2 linked regions of the Homo sapiens genome follow. The protein of the gene in region 1 interacts with the protein of each later gene in a pairwise test. Each region holds a gene or a part of one and is shown on either strand. Other genes may lie near its edges. The genes, in order: CDYL and H3C10.

Region 1 (3,830 bases):
ATGCTCCCACAACCAGCTCAAGGCAACAGCACAGTCACTTTTTTAAAGTACAGAGAATAAACAGCGAGACTCGAGATAAAAACTACTAGTGCACCTTCTCTTGAACCCCTAGCAGTAAGATGACTGCAGACAGAAAACAAGTATTTTTAATCTTTATTGGTTAAAAACAATTACTAAAACAAACTTTTTAAATTTTTTTTGAACTACTTAATTCAAATCTTATTTACATTTCACCAGATCAGCTAATGCCTCCTTTACCCGGCATCATTATGGAAGGTAACACAGTCCGTCTCTGCTTCTGAAGCCAGAGTACACACACACAGCAAGAGACCAAGGGCACACAGGGCCACTAATCCACAGCTCAGCTTCCTGAAACATCAGCCTAAATCAAGGATCTCTGGAGAAGAGCTCCTTGGTAAATATGTTTAAAATATTTCATATTGAATCCCAAAAATTGTATGGACTACATGGTTAATATCATAAAACATGTAAGGTAACTTGAGATTTCAAACAACAGGTCAGGCTTGCAAAGGCCATTTCCTCCTCCCTCCCACCTCCACCTCCTTAGGAGAATTCCTGCTGACTCCTCTGCCGTCTGGAGAACTTGGGTGGAAATGACCATAAAATTTATGTTTAAGTTTACCATAAAAGTAGACTTAATTTTTTCGCTTACACTTACATAGCAACACTTTTTAAAAACTCTTCTTGATAGCTCTTTGCAACATATGCCTTTTCTTTCATAAGCATGCCCTTCACTTGCTCTAAGGGGCGCAGGACTGGCCCCACGGAGCCTGTCACCTCAAGACTTGGAGTGCCATCACCAGCTACCCTCTTCAGCGAACTTCATGAACAAACTTATTAACGTCAATTCACCTGCCTCTGGCAGAGCCTTTTCCTTTACCAAATAACCTGTTTCTAACATGCTAAAGGTGCCAGTCAAGTCCAAGTACATAATGCCTAAAGGAAATGTCAACAGTCTCCAAGAGAGACCCAGAGCTGTTGTCCAGTGTGCATGGGGTGGTGCATCTTTTTGCAAACTAAGATGACTTTTTTTGTCCTGGTTCTGAGATACACTAAAGAGCTGGGATATCCACATTAGTTACATGCTATTAATAAAATAAGAAAAGCTTCTGTGTGCAACTATGTGATGCCTTGAATTCCTAAACAGTAAACTACTAATGAAAAATGGGTACAAGTGAAAAACGGATACATTTTAACCAAAGAACATTCATGATGTGCAGTCAACATTGTTGGGTTTTAACAACAAACACTAGGAAGCTACCAACAAAGAAAACTTCACATAGCAGAGAGCCTACTACAAATGGAAATAAGACAAAAAGTAAATAAAAGACATTCTCTAGATATATTGAAGCTAACCTCTCCACAAAAAAGAAAGTATACTATACGGTCACACGTTGCTTAACTACAGTGATATGTTCTCAGAAATGCGTTGTTAGGCAATTTCACTGCTGTGCGAACCTCACAGAGTGAACTTACACAAACATCAATGTTGTAGCCTACTACACACCTAGGCTGTATGGTAGAGCCTATTGCTTCCAGGCTACAGACCTGTACAGATGTTACTGTACTGAACACTGTAGGCAATTTTAACACAATAGTGAGGACTTGTGTATTAGTCCATTCTCACATTGCTAATAAAGACATACCCGAGACCGGGTAATTTATAAAGGAAACGAGTTTAATTAACTCAGTTCCACATGGCTGGGGGGGCCTCACAATCATGGAGGAAGGTGAATGAGGAGCAAGGTCACACGTTACATGGTGGCAGGCAAGAGAGCTTGTGCAGGGGAACTCCTTTTTATCAAACCATGAGATCTCATGAGACTCACTATCAGGAGAACAGCAAGGGAAAGATCCACCCCACGATTCAACTACCTCCCACAGGGTCCCTCCCATGGTACGTGGGAATTATGGGAGCTACAATTCCAAATGAGATCTGGGTGAGGACACAGCCAAACCATATCAACTTGTGTATCTAAACATAGAAAAGGTACAGTAAAAATGTGGTATTATAATCTTACGGGACCACCATCGTAAGACCAAAGTATCATTATGTGGTACAAGACTATATATCAAGGCATGCCGAACAAAGACATTGAACATTTTGCTTCAGAAGCAATTGCGTTATAACTATTATAATCCATTTTCATAAACAGTCCTCTTGAAAACTACTGTTTTGCATTTTCAATATCATCAGGTAAATCTCAAGTGTTGGTTCAAAGCCTCAATCCCTGCTCATGTCACAAATTCCAAATCAAGAAGGTTTCTTCAGATTCTGGCAATAAAGCAAACATGACTCCAAAGGGCCCTCTCATTACAAATTAACTAGATCTTTAATAAAATATAACTCTCATTAACAGTGATACCATATAGCAATTGTAGGAAACAAGGAAAATATCCCAGCTGCCTCAGTAACTGCCCCCAACCCAAAATAATGACTAAATCATAAAATGGACAAACACCAAAGACTTAAAAAACGAATTGCAGATTAGGTAAAAACTCCCCAGAATATTTCGAAGTAAAAAATGTAATTATTGAAAATTAAAACTCAATGGTTGAATAAAACAGCAGATTAAACACAGCTCATTAGTGAACTATAGTTTAGATCCAAGGAAATAGCTAAAATGCAGCACATAAAAAGAAAACAAAACACAAACAAGGAGATGGAAATGAAAAGGTAAAAGACAAAGAAGAGAGAATGAAATGATCTGATAGATGTCTACTTGGAATTCCTGACGAGTACAGAGAAGGAGTATTTGAAGACAAACTGGCCAAATCCATTTTCGAGCTGATGAGGCACAAATCCAAAAAGCAGCACAACATATACCCACCTAACTAATAAAAAATCACACAAAATACATTGTCGTATTAAACAAGAGGAAACCAAAGTCAAAGAGATGATCTCAAGAACAACCAGAGACAGAAGACAGATCTCCTATAAAGTGACTGCACCTATGCTGACAACAGTCTTGGCCAGGTGCAGTGTGGCTCACACCTGTAATCCAAGCACTCTGGGAGGCTGAGGCGGGTGGATCACTTGATGTCAGGAGTTCGAGACTAGCCTGACCAACATGGTGAAACCCCATCTCTACTAAAAATACAAAAAATAGCCAGGCATGGTGGTGCATGCCCATAATCCCAGCTACTTGAAAGGCTGAGGCAGGAGAATCACTTGAACCAGTGAGGCAGAGGCTACAGTAAGCCAAGATCATGCCACTGCACTCCAGCCTGGGCGACAAGAGTGAAACGCCACCTCAAAAAAAAAAAAAAAAGTCTCAAGAATAGTGCAAAGGCAAGGCAGAAGACAATGGAGCACCATCTTCAGAAGGAGCTGAAAGAAATTAACCAATTAACTGGTTTTATTTGAAATACTATTCTCTTTCAAAAAATGATGGCAAAATAAAGACATGTCCAGATAATAATAATTAAAAAAAAAAAACCTAGAAACTTTTCCATCCATAGTCCCTCACTAAAGAAATCTCTAAAGGATACACTTAAGAAAAAAAAAAATCCCAGAAGGAAGTTCTGAGATAGAAGATGGACGATCTGATTGAAGAAACTATGAAGTCAGAGGTGAATCTAAAGAAAGGTTGTATAAAATAATAATGTTCTATTTGATGAGGGATTTTTTCATGGGCAATAAGAAAGCAGTAGCATGTGAGTTCAGGAATGCACCAGGGTTCAAGGAATGTAAAATCTTTACATTGTCAGAAGTGCCATTAAATACTGACTATCTTTAGACATCATGTATGCATAGCTGCAAAATTAGCCACTTAAAGACTAGAAATAGCATACAACTTCTAAACCCA
Region 2 (2,444 bases), about 23 Mb from region 1:
TCTTATTTTGAATACTCCTGACAGTTCAGAGTTTTAGCCACTGTCAGCAGAAGTCAGAGAAAACACTTTCTCTCCCACACGTATTTTTACATGGGGCTTCAAAGGGAATGTTCTCTGGCGGGCTTTCTCCAGAAGACTTTTAAACCTCAAACCATCTGTCATTAACTACATTTAAGTGGTTTAAGCAGGCCCAAAATCCGGCTTGAAAAAATTCAAAGAAAACTTAACACTGCTTAGGAACGGGGGGCGGGGAGAGAACGTTTCACTTTAGCCAGCATGAGCTACATTAACCTGAATTTTTCCAACTTCAGTACAACCTTAGTTTTATTTCTGGCGTGTTGGCAAGAAATATACACACACCACAGTACAGGTTAGCAGAAAATTAGAAGCACCATCCGGTCAAAACCGGGCTGCGGAGATGGGAGAGCAATACACGAAGGAACTTTTGGCTACACTCAATGCTTACGGAAAAATGCCGGACATTATTAGATGTTAAGACTCCCAAAATTAGCATTCAAAAAGGGATAGGCTGAGTCTTACGAAACAGATTGTATAACGTCTGGAAATGGGCCCTATCTACTACAGGCAAAACAAGTACCAGGAAGAATTCCTGAGAGAAACAGATCTTTTCAGCGCGCATGTGGGTGGCTCTGAAAAGAGCCTTTGGGTATGTAATCAGTGAGTCCTTGAGACTCAAGCCCTCTCGCCGCGGATACGACGTGCGAGCTGGATGTCCTTGGGCATGATAGTCACCCGCTTGGCGTGGATGGCGCACAGGTTGGTGTCCTCAAAGAGCCCCACCAGGTAGGCCTCGCATGCCTCTTGCAGCGCCATCACCGCGGAGCTCTGGAAGCGCAAGTCGGTCTTGAAGTCCTGCGCGATCTCACGCACCAGACGCTGAAAAGGCAGCTTTCTGATCAGCAGCTCGGTGGACTTCTGGTAGCGGCGAATCTCGCGGAGAGCCACTGTACCAGGCCGATAGCGATGGGGCTTCTTGACACCGCCGGTGGCCGGAGCGCTCTTCCGAGCCGCCTTGGTGGCCAGCTGCTTGCGCGGAGCCTTGCCGCCGGTGGACTTGCGAGCAGTCTGCTTCGTACGCGCCATGCCTTCAGAGCTAGATTCACTTCAGGAGAAAGAGAAAGCTAGCCGCTTATTTATAGTGAGAGTCTGAAGCTGATTGGACAAAAGTATGCTGAAGGCCTACCCAACAGTAACCGGATTGGCGAAGGACTCAAATTTTTGTTGTTCACCTATTCCTCTGACAGACTTAGCAGTTCATGGTCTCCATATTTTATTTTCTATTTTCGCTATACAGTTGTTCACTATACTAGCGATTTCCAGTGGAAATGAGAGCAATATAAGTAATTTACACTTATCTAGGAGAACATTGTAACAAAACAAGGAAAAATTAATTTTTAATATTTTGCTTAATCCAATATAGCCAACATATTTCAATGTTATCGAAATTAAAATTGTTAGGTATTTTACACTTTTTGGCACTGACTTTTCCAAATGCAATGTGTATTTTATATAAAATTCATGCTATGGAATTTCCAATGATCACTATCCACAATTGGCTAGTGGCTGCAATACTGGACAGGACAGCCTTATACACCTGTCCCCTCAATTTTCTATCTTTTGACCACTTAAATTTAAAAAACTTCTATTTTTATAACCAAGAAAAGCTGGTTCGCATGTGAGAAATTCAAGGCCAAAAAATGTCAAAGAAACAACTTTATGTGAACTTTTCACTTTTAGATTAAAGTAATTCCATTGCAGCTTATTTTTCCAATACTCTAGAAATGTAATTCATTTTCTTTTAAGAATCTATTCCATTCGTACATCCAGATCTGATTCAGATTAAAAACATCAAGTCAGATATTTTAAAAGTGGAATTTACCATGCTGAAACAAATTAAGTCATCTCTGTACTAAGAAATCAATTTGTGTGGCTGGGGGTGGGAAAGCTCGGGAAATTTTAATTTCAATGAATTTTCAGAAAATGCTTCAAAGAGAACTACCTGGCACCATAAGTAACTGTTCTAATTAGTCTAATAATTATTCTCAACTCAATCATTAATGTTCAAATGCAATTAATTATACAGATTCGAGAGATATTTCTCAGAAATGAAGAATCCAAGTCGTTGATCTAGATTTGGATTGAACGTCGAATGCCCGGTTTGTTATTTACCAAGACCCAGAAAACATCTGGCCCCAAAGCAGACATGTTTGCTTCAACAGACTAAAAGTAAAACCCGACGGTGAACCATACAGAATTCAACATACTTGGATAATGCCAGCTTAGGAAAAACTAAATTTTCTTCCACTAAGCTTAAGATGAAGGCGTGTTTAATACTTTTAATGTTATCCAGGCTTTTTATAAAGCTAACGAGATTGTCACTACCTAACCAAGACACCGAAGACTGATCTACGTAACCTTTGGAG

Evidence for each region.
Region 2: the proteins of CDYL (region 1) and H3C10 interact in binary tests that used the Homo sapiens proteins (3 or more experiments, as listed by UniProt).

The regions. Positions count from the first base shown.
Region 1 is NC_000006.12:4,782,881-4,786,710, reverse strand, and holds part of CDYL (chromodomain Y-like protein), read right to left. Parts: intron 1-3,830.
Region 2 is NC_000006.12:27,808,734-27,811,177, reverse strand, and holds H3C10 (histone H3.1), read right to left. Parts: upstream 1,128-2,444; 5' UTR 1,105-1,127; coding exon 694-1,104; 3' UTR 642-693; downstream 1-641. UniProt on the Homo sapiens protein: Core component of nucleosome. Nucleosomes wrap and compact DNA into chromatin, limiting DNA accessibility to the cellular machineries which require DNA as a template.